Linked DNA regions of Homo sapiens: region 2 is linked to region 1. The links come from fine-mapping of genetic effects on gene expression. Tissue or cell type: whole blood. Region 1 holds a variant in brackets; the other region holds the start of a gene. All regions are shown on one strand. Distances are from middle to middle.

The links. PIP is the estimated chance that this variant, and not a neighbour inherited with it, causes the effect.
Region 2: SESN3 starts here. The variant in region 1 is fine-mapped to the expression of SESN3 in whole blood (INTERVAL, PIP above 0.99). The same link has a PIP of 0.9 or more in lung.

The regions. Positions count from the first base shown.
Region 1 is chr11:95,168,842-95,176,948 of GRCh38, forward strand. It overlaps SESN3 (sestrin 3), which reads right to left. Exons shown (of 10, transcript NM_144665.4): 9 at 6,657-6,801; 10 at 1-4,500. The coding sequence ends at 4,414. Among named protein-coding and RNA genes, the nearest start is that of LNCRNA-IUR, 22 kb to the left of the region's middle. The variant G/A (reference allele first, on the strand shown) is at 4,106.
Region 2 is chr11:95,226,747-95,234,853 of GRCh38, forward strand. It overlaps SESN3 (sestrin 3), which reads right to left and starts at 4,456. Exons shown (of 10, transcript NM_144665.4): 1 at 4,037-4,456. The coding sequence starts at 4,114. It overlaps LOC100129203 (a long non-coding RNA gene), which reads left to right and starts at 3,440. Exons shown (of 6, transcript NR_110295.2): 1 at 3,440-3,749; 2 at 4,379-4,827; 3 at 5,306-5,430; 4 at 5,844-5,928; 5 at 6,134-6,173; 6 at 6,708-7,658. RefSeq lists silencers at 4,010-4,319, 4,330-4,479 and enhancers at 4,835-5,474, 5,475-6,114.

The DNA of each region.
Region 1 (8,107 bases):
AGGGAAGGGGAGGAGAGTGAGCATGTAGAGGTTGAGGCACTTGGAGGAAGAAGCAGGCAGAAAAGGGTGGACTGAATGCAGACAGGACCTCCCACATGGGAAATATTTTCTCTAGATTAGGTGTACGGTGCTGAAGGCAGCCACACTCTCAGCACTATGTTCCTCATATTCTTTGAAAACTCTTCCTTCCTCATAGGGCTCTGCCTTGACATATACCTCTACCTCTCTTATCCATTTCACCCCAGCTATTTTTGTTCTAGGTCTCACCTGGGCAGATTCTAGGTCTGCTAACTAAGCCAAATTAGCATTGAAATAAGCTCCACATACAGTGGGCATATAAGTTCTGTTGACTGAGATAAATACATTCATGTTACAGTACTGCTTTGAAGAAAGACTATTTAATTTGATTCTCAGTCTCCAGAGGGATATAATAGGGAAACACAGTTTACGTTGACGGCCACCTAGAATAGATTCTGATTACATAAATTAGGTAACTTAAAACTCAATCTGAGCAGAGGAGCCACGACTTTCAGCCTGCTGTTGAATTGTGCTACTAAGCAAATGTGATATACTATTTACATAACAAACATTATTGTTATGTACTGTTTAGTCCATGTTAAGACCATCTCTTTGCATAAAAGCAGTTCTATTAAAGAGAAGAATTTAAGGTCTTGCTTTCCAGAGAAATGATTTAGAATTGTCTTTAAAATACAACCTAAAACACCTTATTTTGCTAACACAGTGCAAATCATTTTTATAATATGCACTGAAATTTATTTTTTCCATGAGGAATTGTCCTTAGAGTTCAAAAGAATCTTACCATCATATAGGCATGCACCCTCCCTCCACTAAAAATGGTGTACTATTTTAAGTACAGATCTTTAATTGTTGATCATTTTATTTTGCTGTGGCACAGAAATCTAAGATTTTGGATTTAAAAAAAAACTTTATAAGGGGGAAAAGGAAAAAGTTGCTCTGGAATAATAATTAGCTTTTAGAAGCATTTAAGATCTTTAGGAGACATTATAACAACTAAATAGGAGCTCTGGTTCAAATTTTATAGGATTCTTATATAAAACTTATATTGAGTTTTCTGTTGTAAAAACAGCCCTGTGTTTCTCTGCCATTATTTGGGCTTACAACCATAATTAAAGGCCAAGGCTATGCCCCAGATTCCATGTTAGCCATCTTTTATTTTAAAAATACCCCAAATGGGACAAATTCATACTGGGACTGAGACAATGTACTTAGTTCAAAAAGGGGAAGGAGGTAATAAGCTGTCTCAAAAGCCTCTTTTCCCCTAATAGTCATATATCCACCTGAGGAAGCCTCGTCTGAAGAAGCCAGTGAGGCACCTGCCTGGCTACTCCCATAGTCAGGTGGGTTAAAGAACAGATTATTTTCAGGTGGGAGAGTATCTCAATATTTCTTAAGGTGATCTGAGAAATTATAAATTACCATTGAAGCTGGAAATCTTGAAATTCCAAAGTAAATAGACATTATTCAAGCATACACATCAGTGGACTATGAAGACTAATTTTAACATAATAAGCAAAGAATTAAAGAATTCACATTCACATGTGCTTTTCTCACGTACACTTGCACATTTAAGTTTGGCACAATGTGAGCGCAAGGTGTAGATCAGCATATTGCATAATCACGTCATTATACCAATTGAACCAGATATCTCTTTTAAAAATATCACATTTTAATATAAAAAGCTATACTATAAATTACTAAATAGTAAATTCAATACTCTGAAAAAATACCACCCTGGAAAACCGCATCAGAATTTCAAGTTTGCATTGGATAAAGAGAGTTAACAGCAAACTCGTTGTAAAATGGTATTCACAACCTGAAATGCTGTGCATGCTGCGTATTAGTAGGTGCTTTAGCACCTGCAGAAGTCAATTTTTCTAGGCTGGTTCACTGAGGTTCATAAATATATGGTGTTGTTTTTGTTTATAGTTCCAAGTCAACTTATTTTCCTATTGATAAGATAGATCAATGCTGAGCTAAAAAGAAACTTTGCAAGGAAAGAGATCTATTAAAGGCACTAATATTTCCATAGCCTAAACTCCAACTACTTACATTTCCAGGGAAAAAAATAAACACAAACTAAGTGGCCATTTTAGTTACTTAAACCTTGTTTCCCCTTTTGGTCTAAAGCTCATATGGTGTTCTGTGAGAATTTCTCCTCCTTTTCAATACATACAAATCATTTTTTATCCTGTTATACAGTTCGCCTGCACAAAAATATAGGGCTATTAATTGAAAGCATCTAGTAAAAAAACAAATTCAAGAATAAATGACATCCTCAACTTGAAAGTTGTGAAGTTAGGTAAGTCAAATGGACATTTATGTTGCCATTTGTGTTTTGCCATTCTCCTAAATATTTTCTTTGTATTACATATCTACATAATGTAATATTGAATAAAAGTTAACATATGGCATATGCAATAAAACAGACGAGATATGGCACAAGTTCTCTGAATAATCTCTTTAAATAAACCACCCTGTCTTTAAAAATATTAGTAATTTTTTCCTCACATGGAAGATTTCAAACAGGATCCTGGAATCCAAAAATGCAGAACTACCTTATGTTAATAAGTATACAGTCATATTTGTTTTCCTATCTGGAACAAAATCTAAAAGAAAGCAACCCAATATATTGTACCAGAGGAGGATGATAAATGGAAGAGGAAAATGATTTCATGAAACACTAGTTCACGATTCTTTCACAAAAGAAAAGTTAAATCTTATATCACAAGTAAGTCTAAAATGAAATATTTGCGGGAACTCTAACAGAAAATTTTATCTATATTATTTACTATGAAAAATGGATAAGTTTTCAAAAATTAGCATGTATGTGTACAATTCAAGTCACCCTTAACTAACCAAAAAGTGTTTAAAAAGCAGTGCAGTTGTGTCCTACTGGATAGTTGTAAGCATCTCTTTAGGCACTTCACTGGTTCATTGACATAATACAAATTAAAGCTATAAACACATAATGTGCTCTCTGAAGATAGTCTAATCAAGCAACGTAAACCAATGCAAAAATGTGACTTTTTGGCCGCTTATTCCTCCCCTATGACTTAATAACGTTTTTAAACCAGTTGTCCAAGGAGATTTTTCTGGGGAAGGGAATGCTTTGGCATTATGAAAGGAACATTGTTCAATCCCAGAAAGGTAAAACTGAAAAAAGCCTGTGCAATAAAGAAATTTGAAAAAAATTTCTTTATGGCTCTGTTTAAAAGGACACTTTTGCAGTGATATGACAGGGGGAAAGTTTAGTTGAGTATTTTTTGAACATATTGCACTCTGTTTTTGTAGTTCAATCACATTAATGCATAGAAACACAATTTTTACCTTTGAAAAATAAACTGTCTAACCTATTATAAGAACAAAAGTCATGGAAAATAATTTCTAAAAGCCTAACAGGAAAAATAGGCATATTAACCTTCCTTTGCTTAACGAAATATAGAAAAAAACTATGAGAAAGGAAAAATGTGCAAAGAAAATTTTTGGTCAGTCTTGTGTGGGTACAGGTTTATATGTGCCAACTAAATGAACTGTAAGCAGCACTGTGAGCACTGATTATTTAAGGTGACTGAGGATTACTGTCAGTGATAGGATTGTGTTATAATTCCACTTATATACATCTGATATGGAAAACTGAAACTTCCATTTTAGAAGAGAAAGAAAATAGCTGAATTTGGCATTTCAGTAGCATGCTATAGAATTCATCATGATTAATTTCACATTAAATTATGGGCAATAGCTGTATCACATTTCATGTTATCGCCAATAGCAGTAAAACAACAATAAATGAACAAACAAACAAATAAAAAACAGTGCCTGACAAATAATCTCCTGGGGACACAAATATGTGTCCAGTGAGCAGCTTGGTTCAACAGCGCATGCTTTTCCTCCACCAGATTTAGGACACAACATTAAAGTTTTAGAATGGCCAGAGAGGTCACTCTTTGCTGAATTCCAATATCTGAAAAACAATTGCTTGAGCAGATTGTAAGCACTTGTCCTTATTCTTAAAAAAAAAAGGGCGGGGTGGGGGGAGAAAAAATACACATACACACAACCCAAA[G/A]GCGCTGAAGTTAAGCATTAATACGCCAGATTCATGATTTATGATCAGTATCCAAAACTCCAACTACAAACAATGCAAAGTAGTGCTCCTCAGTATTATTTTTGCAATTGTTAGTAATGTTAAGCATCAAGGAAAATAAAACACATCATTGCACATTACAGCCGCAAAAAACAAAAAAAAAAAAACAAACGGCTAAACTTTGACACTAGAGAACTGAATAATTTTTGATGCTATATCACAAATAGCTTCAATGTTTATCTTATGTGAAAGGTCTTTACACATGTATGACATTTTCCTTGGGTGATACTTCAGGTCAAATGCCGAGTTATGGCACGAAGAGCATAAAGAAGTTCAGCTTGCATTCGTGCTTCCATTAAAAGTAGATTGACATGAACCTAGAAGTGAAAATGTTATCAGTTTAGTAACCATTATAAACACCTGGAAAATCTTATTAGACATTCACAAAGGTTTTTTTATGTGTATATAAGCAATATACACACACACACACACCTAGGCATATTTATCCATGTTCATGATGCAACACTCAAACCTGTGTCTAATGGCTCTGCAAGCAGTAAAAATAACCCATAAAATCTAAAAAATTCTGATAACTTTATTAAAGTTGTTATTTTTGTAAAGTCAATCTGTTGGGTTATAAAATAAAACTAATTTTTATAAATTATAATTTTCCTACAAATTACATTTCTTTCTAGTTATAAAATTTTACATGGCTAAAAATCAGCCCTCATTTTTTTTTTTAACAGTTTATGCTTATCCTGTGAAAAGCTTTAAAAAATTTTTCCTAGTATTTACTTAAAAGATACTAAAGTGAAAATCTGATGTTTAAAGTTTCTGATTAGTGTTTGATACTTGTTAGACATACATAGCTTCCCTAGAGTCTTTCAGATAAAATTCTGCAGAACATTTCTTTCGGGGTTACATCTCGGCTGATAAGTTAAAATGGGTATCCACAAGTTTTCAAAATTTACTATAAAAATATGTTTTAATATTATATTCTTTTGATATATTTATACCAGTTGGATATGTGGTTGGATATATTCTCCTGAAGAGTAAAGAGAATTTCTAGATACAATCTAGAAAAGGAAGAAAATCTAGAGCAAACATATAAATATGGGATAAAGACCCATCAAGGGGAAATGCTGGATGTAAAATGGGTATTTACCTGATGTGAGTGGCTCTAAGACTTCAAAAAATCTGTTAGGTACTGAAGCCATAACATTCTCTGCTAAGATCATACAGTTTATTAGCGAATGTTTCCTAAAAAGATTTTCTTACTTTCAAGCTTCGAAACTGTTGTATAAAGGAGATTCTTGAACTTAAAGGTTAAAAGTCCTAGGACTTAAGGCCAGCTCTTATACTATGATGTTGATAAAGATCCTTAACATTTATTAGGTTTTCTAACTTCATGTTGCCTATATATTTCTTTCAAATAAATATTTTTATGTAACAGTATATTTGGCTCAAAGGTCCTGAATTATACTGTCAAAACACTAAATTACCAAGTTTGGGTAAAAATCTATTGTCTTTTTTTCGAGAGATGAAGTCTTGCTCTGTTGCCCAGGCTGGAGTGCAGTGGAGTGATCTCGGCTCACTGCAACCTCTGCCTCCTGGGTTCAAGCGATTCTCCTGCCTCAGATTCCCAAGTAGCTGGGACAACAGGCATGCACAACCATGCCCAGCTAATTTTTGTATTTTTTAGTAGAAATGGGGTTTCACTACATGTTGGCCTGGCTAGTTTTGAACTCCTGACCTCAGGTGATCCCCCCACCTCGGCCTCCCAAAGTGCTAGGATTACAGGCGGGAGCCACTGCACCCAGCCACTATCTGGGTTTTTAAAATATTTTTTTAATTCAGATTTATTGACTAGTAACCCAATTTTGGTTATATGCTTTGTTCAATATAGCATATAAAAGTTTATCGTAAGCCTTAGAAATACTAGATCTGAGTACTGATATCTTCAAAGCACATTTGGAAAACTGTCTACAGTTCTAACTATTAATAAAAATCAGACATACTGAAATGTTGTATTAGGTATAATTGTATTTTGGCCCAGAAGGCACATCCATTTCGAGATTCTTTAACCACTAAAGTTAACCTATTAAGACAACGGTTTCTGCTGGGCACAGTGGCTCCTGCCTGTAATCCCAGCACTTTGGGAAGCCGAGGTGGGCAGATCACCTGAGGTCAGGAGTTTGAGACCAGTCTGACTAACATGGTGAAACCCCACCTCTACTAAAAATACAAAAATTAGCCAGGCGTGGTGGCAGGCACCTGTAATCTCAGCTACTCGGGAGGGTGAGGCAGAAGAATCACTTGAACCCGGGAAGTGGAGGTTGCAGTGAGCTGAGATCGTGCCACTGCATTCCAGCCTGGCAAACAAACAAGCAAAAAAACCCCAGATAGCTAGATGATGCCACTTCCATGTCAATGGCTATAATTTATTAATACTTTCATGTGTCATTTTTCATAACTATTACTTCTTGTACTGAAGAACTGTCTATGGTATAATGCTTAATACTGAAACACGTACTTTTTCTGAGTGTTTGAACTGCCGCCAGTAACTATCATACATGCGTTTTGTAGTTCTCTCAGGATAGCAGGTCACTGTCTTAATGTAAACCTTCAGGCTTCTTTCAAGTAATTGATTAACTTCTCCATAATCATAGTCATCATACCTACGAGCAATACAACAATAGCTTTATAATGACAAAATCAAAATATTTAGTTTCCAAAGTTATACTAAGGACATTTATTGTCTAGTAATTAAATACTAAAAGCTCGTTAATTAATTGAATCAACAAATGTTTACTGAGTACCCATTATGTGCCATGAGTACTCAGTAGTAGTGATATACTAGTGAACAAAACAGACAAAAATCCTTGGTCTCATGGAGCTTAAATTTTGTTGAAGAAAAAACGAAGAAAAATTAAAAAGATAAACACATTGTAGTCAGATGGTGATAACTGCCATGGAGAGGAAATGGAACTTGGTCTGGGAGGAGAGGAGTTGTTATTTTAAATAGGGTGGGCAGGAAGGCTTCTCTGAAAGCCTTGATATTTGAACAAATACCAGATGGTGGTAAAGAAGCAAGTGTAAAGGACTTGAGGTAGGAGTCAAGTGTTTCAGGGAAGAGCAAGTAATCACTGAGTCCCATGCTGCCAAATAGTCAAATAAGATAACTGGGAACTGACCACTGGAAGTAGCTATATGGAGGTCACTAGCAACCTCGGTAAGAGCAGTTTTGTTGGTTGATAGGGACAAAAGCCTGATACTGTGAATAGGTTCAAGAGAGAATGGGAGATAAGAAAATAGTGACAGTAAATATACACAATTTTGTCAGAGATTTGCTTCGCACGAAAGCAGAAAATGAGGCAGTAGCCAGATGGAAATGAAAGGTGAAACTGAAATTTTCTTTAAAGATGGGAGAAATTAAGTGTGTTTCAATGCTGATGGGAAAGATCCAAAATGGGAGTAAAGCTGATTATGCTGGAGAGAGAAGGGAGCATTGCTAGAACTGAGATCTTTAGAAAATGAGAAATGGGATTTTGTGCATAAGTGTATAGGAACATAGACAGTAATGACAGCAGAGTAAATGGGCACAGATGTAGACAGGTAGGTAAATGTAGTATTGGGAACTTGTGGAATTTCTCTGTTACATTTTCAGTTAATTTTTAACCCATATAATGCTTAGTTTAATAAAAAGAGTATCTTGATGCATTTATGTAAGCTTTATTTTGTAGCATCCAACAGATATATTCACCACATTTGTTGCCTTGTATCCAATACATATTTATTGCATTTAAATTGAGTTTTATCGGTGTTTATTTTTCTTAAGTAGGTAGATATGATATATATGTGTTTTAAAATGTATTGATTCTTTGATAACATTGTCTAGCATGGTAAATGGACAAATAGCTCAGTTATTACATACAACCATAATCTATTACATGGAATATCGTGTTATTAGGCGATTTATCAGTA
Region 2 (8,107 bases), 58 kb after region 1:
TTTGTAATGAAAGATAATGGTGTTAGACTCCAGTTATTAAAATTATGTGTACATATTTGGGGGTACCCATATTTTTAAATTACAGTTTTAAAATAAGTTAAAACATACTTAAAAATTTAATGCAACTCAAGCATTTTAAAACCCCAAAGAATCTTAAGGGTCCATACGAAGCAGTTTGAAAACCATTGCATAAAGGTTTGCCATCACTAATTAACTACTTGATCTCTGCTTAGGATATTTAAGATAATCAAGTTAAAAACTGCCTTTGACAATCAAAAATATGTAACACAAGAAAACTGATTAACCAAGGCATAATGTAACTAGTGGTCCACAGATAGAGCAAATACATTTTATTGGCTAAACCATATAAAGTTGCTATTACTTAACAATTTTGACTATAAAAATGAGGCTCATATAGTTCAATCTAGTATTTTTCTTTTTTTTTTTTGTCTTTTTTTTTGAGACAGAGTTTTGCTCTTGTTGCTCAGGCTGCAGTGCAGTGGCGTGACCTTGGCTCACCACAACCTTGGCTCACCACAACCTCCGCCTCCCAGGTTCAAGTGATTCTCCTGCCTCAGCCTCCTGAGTAACTGGGACTACAGGCACACGATTCCACGCCCAGCTAATTTTTGTATTTTTAGTAGATATGGGGTTTCACCATGTTGGCCAGGATGGTCTCGATCTTTTGACCTCGTGATCTGCCCACCTTGGCCTCCCAAAGTGCTGGGATTACAGGCGTAAGCCACCATGCCCGGTCCTCAATCTAGTATTTTTCATTTTGACAGTATCTTTGTTTATAAAACCATCAAAAAGATGTCAAAATATATGATCATATAACAAAGTGAAAAGTGCAATAACAATACAAAGATATATCACTATAACTATCTTAACATTAAAAAAGTTTAAATGTTAGATCCTCTAAAGAGCACAAAACTATTCATTTAAGTAGCACTAACTGCTCAATACCCAAAGTACATTGGAATATGCCACTTTTTTATTTACTGGAAGATGAGTGGACTGATAATTACCTACCTTCCTCAATGCAGTTTGACACATGACTTTTCAAATTAAAGGATTATGTTCTTCTAGTTATCACTAGAATTTCTTCAAGTAAAAGATTAAACTTAAAAACTCGTTAACTTTACAAAATAAATAGAAGCATTTCCTCTTTTATTAAAAACTTTACTGAACTACCTCATTGACAATAGAGCAAGTTAGACTTAAGAGTTAGGGATTTCAGGATAGTTTTGATGGTTAATTTATTTATGGATATGGTTTACCTCTCCATTCTTTTTACTGTCCTAAGGTTACCAAATTAGGTACATTCAATATTTTAATAAGTCTCTTTATTTTGGAGGATACTAAATCAAAACCGTAAACGGACTTCTAAGAATAAATGTAATTCTCATACAATATATAATTCAATATTCAGGCATTGGGTTAAACCATATTATTTCATTTGAAGGTGAATTCCATTCCTTGTGAAGTTCCCCTAAAATTCAACACACTGCAACAAATTAAGCCACCTACTGAGAGAATAACACTTTCTGTCCCATATAAAGGTGACCCTTCTTCCATCATTATATAGAAATATAAAAGCAAAAGTAATTCACACTGGATGAGCATGAGTTTCATTCTTCCATTATGAATTAGACTGAACAAACATTCAAAATACTATGACTCACTTGGCTACATTACTGAACACTTTATTAAATGGAAAACAAGATAAACTCTAAGAATCACATTTTGAGAGTTATAGATGACTTTTAACTTAGAGTTATATCAACAAGAAAAACATGTCTTTATTAGAAATAAACTTTTCATTGTTATTTTAAGAATGATGAAACATTTAAAATGCTACATACTGATTCTCTTAAGAGCACTTCAAAGTGGCACTCTTTAAAAAGCTGCAAATGTTGCCAAGTCATGTTATAACTGGCTCAAAGAATCCTATTTCCATTAAGTTATTTCATGCCACTGCATGAATCAATATTAAATACCTTGGAGTTACTAAAAACTGGAATACTGGCAGAGATGTGCTCAGCAATTATAAAATACGAAAATGTGAATACTCTTTTTCCACGTTTCTTTTAATAATGGCTAGAAATGAGGATGTTCTTTCTAGGTAAACAGAAATAGTTTCCTAAAAGCTAAAGGAAAGATGTAATATCTTAAATGCTAGCAAAGTGTCATGGATCCATAGCCATAGCTCTCTCAAAAGAAAAATGAAATACATTTTGAAGCCTAATATTACCTCCAAACATTTTATTAGCCTAACAAATTGCCAGAGCCATTAAAAAATTTTTTTATCAAAGTCAATACAGTGCTCTTTTTCCTTATTCAATTAAAAAGCATAACTTGCTGTCATTTTAACCAGGCTGCACTTTAATCAAACATGTCTTAAATGACACATTTTTTCATGTCAAAGACATAACATAAATTTAAAAATTAAGAAATAAATTTTTTTGAAAGCTAAGTTCAGATGACATCTGGCCCTGCAGTGAAAGAGTTAACATCCAACTAAGCTGATCTGCACTTCTGATCCATTACATTTCTCACAAGCTACCCTACAATGAGCTGAGCAAGTATCAACTGTAATTTGATCCTAGAGTTTATGGAAAAAAATAACTGCACATACTCAACATGCACATTTAATAAAAATCTGTTTCAAGAGAAACATATCCAATAAACACAATTTAAGGCATATTTAACTGTTCAATTAACCTCAAATCTGCAATCCCTTTGCTCTCACGCTCTCAAATAAAATAGGAAGAAAAAAAAAAGCAGCAGCCCTACTGCAGGGAAAAGAGGCTTGAAAAACAACTTTGATTGGCACTTGGCCTGACCCACAGAGGAAGAAAAACAGTTTTTGGACAAAGAGCGCAAATATTTGAGCTTGCTTACTTATGTGCTTTTTTCTTTCTTCCTTTTTTAAAAAAAAATGTAGAAAGAACAATCCCAAAGTGAACCGTATTTAGAGATGTTGACTAAAAACGGTACCATATTCATCTCCGCTTTCAGTCCCGATGCATTTGCACAGCTCAGCAATTTTAATTCATTTGTAGTGAACAAACAGAAGCATCTCACCTAACGTTTCCACTTAATAAAATGTAAAAATAGAGTTTGAATACGAATAAACTGATTATAATATTACTTTGGGGCAGCTGTTAAAATCTGATCAAAAAGTCTAGAGACCTTTTTTTCATTCCCTTCCCCATCCCTCTCGCCCTTCCCCGCGGGGCGATTAAGCCAAGTAAGCTAAACAATACTGGAGTAAACTTTCTATCAGTCACTCTAGGAAGCAGCAATAAACTGATGGTGCGCCTCATTTTTCTGGATCAACACGGGGGCAGGGGGGTGCTAAGGAGGAATAACCCACATCCACCTCAGTCTTCTCCTCCCCCAACCCCAGCCTCAGGAACTGGCCAGGTCGAATTGCATTTCCCATGGGCATAAAGTTCAAGATGCTTTACTGGTTCCTTTCGAGACTGAACTACAGACACAGGACTACCATCCAAACAATTTGAAAACGGGGGTTGTTGAGCAAGGCGCGCAAGGCAGAAGCAACCGAATAAACAAAAACAACACTCGCAAGAGTTAGCCACAGCAAAGAGGGGCCAGGTTCCTCGGGATCCGACCCAGCTGCTCTGATTTCACACCGACCTCCATCAACAGCTAAACTGCACAGGGAGGAGGATCGAACGGATCCCTCCCGCCCTCCGCCCAAGGAGCCGACCCGGGGTAGCAAGGTAGGGAAATGAGCCGTAAAGGAGAGCAAAGGCACCAAATAAAAGGAACAAGGGAAGAAAAAATATCCCAACCCCTCCAGACTTGGGTCTGTCCCGGCGGAAATAAAAAGCCGCAGTAGTCCAAACCCTCCTGCCCTCAACCCACGCCCCCTTTCTCAGTCCCTGCGGAGGGACGGTGCCCGGGGATCCCTCTCAGCCTCCCCCAGTGCGCGCCCGGGGACGAGCCGCCCGAGCCCCGGCCGGCAGGAAGCGACCCTCGCCGGCAGGACCCCGGGCCGAACCCGTACCTTCCGCAGCACTTTCCGGCAGTTGGTACAGAGCAGGTAGTTGGCGGCGGCCGACGGGCTGCCGCCGCCCCGGTTCATCGTGGCTGCGGGCGCCGAGGCGAGAGCGGGCGGAGGGCCGGGTCCGGGCTGTCACTGCGGCCACTGCAGGGCCGGTCCGTCCCCCCGCCGCCAGCCGCGATTCCGCCTCAGCCTCCTCAAGGCGGGATGTCGGGAGGAGAGGCGACTGCCTGAAAGCTAGCGGCACTGCCAGAGGCGACCACCGCGGCAGCTGCCCCAGCGACGGCGGAGACGGCGGCGGCTGCTCCTCACCGGCCCGTTGTTCCACCCGCCCCCATCTTCCAGACCCCCGCCCCCGCCAGGCTAGGACGAGCAGCCGCCACCGCTGCCACCGCCACCACCGCCGCCGCAGCGCCTCAGTGCGGCCCCGCCTCCGCCGCCCCACCACCTTCACCACCTCCACGCTCCGGTACCGCCCCTCCCGCCAATCGGACAGCTCCGGCTACGCCCCCAGGGCGCTAGCCCGCAGCCAATGAGCAACGAGAGCCCGACTGGGAGTCGCGCCGGCCAATCGCAGGGGCCGAGGAAGCCTTGAATCTCCGGGCAAGTTAAGTTTATCTCCGAGGCTCGGAACTGAAGGGAGGTGGCGGTTAGCTAAGTAGTAGGGTAGCAGGGAACAGTTTGCTCTCCTCTGCCAATAAGAGGACGAGGGTGTGTCATATGCAAATATACTGCCCTCCAAGCCCCACCCCCAAGATAAGCTACGCCCCCTTCTCTAGGTCCCTGCAGAAGTGGTGAGGAGAATGAGATAAATAGTTGGGAGCTAGAGCTCGCTAGAGAGTCTAAGATTGAGCTAAATATTTCCTGATCTCTCGAGAAAGGGGGAGGGGAGTGGGAGGATTAAATGTTCCTTCCTTCAGGGCAGTGGTTAGGCTTTCTCTCCACCAAAATCTAACTTTAGCTGTAAAGAAGACTGCAGTTATGTAGTACTTTGTATCCAGGGATCTCAAAGAACTTTACGCATCATTTATTGTGAACCTTGTTTTGCAAAGATTTCAGTTACTTGAGGCTTGGGAGGCGGATAGGGGATAAATGTCTGAGTTATATATATATTTACGCAAGTAATCGAGTTTGAGGGGAGAGACACAAAACCTCTGGTTTAGCGGTTTCCTCTTGTTTGTGAAGCACCTTCTAGCAGTTATCTTAGAGATGTAAGTTCATTTACTTGTCCAGCACTAAAAGGCCAAAGGGGCTTGTTTTCTCACCCAAAAGACCTTCCTGAGGCAGCTGTTCGGATACATGCAGAGCACAGCGCCCTGCTCAGAAAGGAAGGTTCAGAGAACAAATTGTCGTTTAAAACTATTGGGACAAACCTACCTCTTCTAAAGCTTAAAATGGTAAGTCAGGGTTTTAGCGTCCACGTTCTGCGGAGAGAAGGCAGACTTGACTGGGGAAAGCGCAGGCTGACCGAGTGTGGCGGGACAGACGGGTAGGGGAGCCAGGTCTCCCGAAGGGGCTAGCAATGCGCGTCCGAGTCGAATGCGGGTTCCCGATGCTAGACGCCCGCAACCTGCTCCCGAGTGAGAACAAAGGCCGGCGCAGAGCGAGAACCTGATTGGTGCCCGGTCCTCACTCGTGTCCTCCGGGCCCCAGAGATAACTTGCATCGCCTACTGGCAAGGAGCTCTGTGCTCACTGGAGCCCAGCTCCCCACCCGGCCATGGCCGTGGCCACAGGACTGTGCATTATGACATCACCTGTTTTCGATTTTTAGAACCTAATCAGTATTCTCGGCTTCTCCCTTTTTAAAGGTCTCCAGCGTACCAGGATTTGTGAAGGCCTGAAGTTCGTAGAATGAAATCTATGTGGAGATGATTTAAAAGAACGGTTTCACTGGTTTGCATTTCTTTCTTTTCTTTTTAATTAAAAAAAAACAACAACCCTGGTTTCCTTAGGGATTCAGGGTGGTGTTATGCAAAATCGGAAAGGTACACTTGGAGGAGCTAGCAAGTTTAGCATATCAAAGCTATTAGACCAATTTGTGCGGTTAAAACTGCCATTCTCATTTCTCAACAGCTGTCTCCTCTCTGTCCCTTTTTAGAGACCAACACATATAAACCAAGTCTACACAAGAAACAAAGGTAATGGAAATCTGCTAGTATCAGGTTTAAATAGATCAAAATAGAGTAGAAAACCCCAAAAGGGTCTAAGTTATGTAGTTGGGTAAAGGTGTTGATCTATTTAGCCAGTGTTAGCTAAAGGTCGCTTGATGCTGTGTAGACATACATAACTAAAGAGCAATGAATGGTGTGGGGAAGGTGCTTAAGATTCAGTTAGAAGAAACTGTAAAAGCAAGTAAATTCAGAAAAGGAGGGAATTACCACATGCCCTTCGATGCAGAGAACCAAGAAATGCAGGGAGAAAGTCAGCAAGGCACAGTTTTTCTAAGAAACACATATGTGTCCCCATTTAGTGGTAAATTTCTTGGGCTATATTCCTGGCTGGTTCTGGCTTTTAAAGCAGATTTTATGTGAGTACATTTTAAAGGAAAGGAGAAATTGAAGGATGAAGTGAATTTTTGTGCAGATTGAATTTTCTCAAATAGAATTTTAAATTCATATTGTTTTCTAGCACATTCTTCTTATAACCTTTTCTTTTCTTTTTTCACTTGACAGCTAAAATCCTTTCGAAATGAGTTCCTTTAAGTTCTTCAGTAACTAAATCCTCCAGAAAGGAAAGCCGAGAGAATCTAGTCCTATACAATAACACCCTCTAACAAAGATCGCTAAAGGAAGATTTTAGTAGATGAATATCTTCAATAATACATGGTCACATACATGTATCTGACCATATGATGGCTCTCTGCACCAAATTCCTCCAAACTATTATAATATGTATTGTCTGTAGTGCTATTTATTTGGCAGTTAATCATGTATTACATTGTGACATTTCTTACAGTGAACCATTATGTATGTGTTTATGTTCTGCCCTCAACTACTCAATGCCAGTACCTTATTCTTAACACAGCAACCACCCTTTCTGGTCTGTCCTCACACCCTCATTCCCATCATAGTTATTCTCCTCTCTCATGGAAATGTTCAGTTTCTGGACATCTCCTTTCTCTTCCATTCTTCACCTGACCTTCCTTCCTTTCTTGGCCAGCCTGAATATTATAAAGGGAATTTTATTTCAAACCCAGGATCGCACTTAAGAGGAAAAGAAACAAAAGCCAGTTCTTTTTATTGCACATAGAACAAGGAGAAACTCCACCCCTTTTGTTGTCTGGTATGTTTAAAACAAGAAAGAACTTTAGAAAAGTAGGATATGAGTGAAAATTACAACCAATGTTGAGAACTACTTTTTAATTTTTTATTACAAAATTAGGATGATACTTCATTAAACATTGTACATCATTTCAAAACTGTTATCTCATAATCATGTTGCTTGTTTTGAATTATTCTTTTAAAGTGTAATTTTTTTAAGCAAAGAATCCATAAAATTACATGGCTTGGATGTACCATAACTTACTTAATCCTTATGCTATTGTTTAATATGTGGGTTGTTTCAGATTTTTCATGATTGTAAATAACAAAATAAACTTCCTTATACTTAAGTTTCTGGCAGAATCTCTGATTCCTAGGCCTGGAATTTCTGAGTAAAAGGGTATACATATGTCTTAAGGCTCATGGTGCAACTTGCTATAATATTTTGTGGAAAGATTTGAATAAGAACACAGGTGAGAGCAATCATTTGAAAGCTATCATTCTGCATAAGGCCCATCAGTATTCCACCTACCTCTACCTTAATCCCTTTCCCTTCTTCCTTCTGCCTGGTGAATATCTTCTGTTGAAACACTTCCTGAATCAAGCACTTGTCCAAGCATCCATAGTGCCCCTCTATACCTCTTCTTTACCAAAAAGCTCACTAGGGAAATGGTAGGTTTAACTCCTGTTTTCTCATTAGACTTCAAACCCCTTGAAGGCAGGGATAGAGTAACATTTACTTTGTATCCTTGGCTCCTAGCTCAACTGATAGGGAAGTGCTCAAAAAAATTTTGGAGAAAGTAATGAGTTTC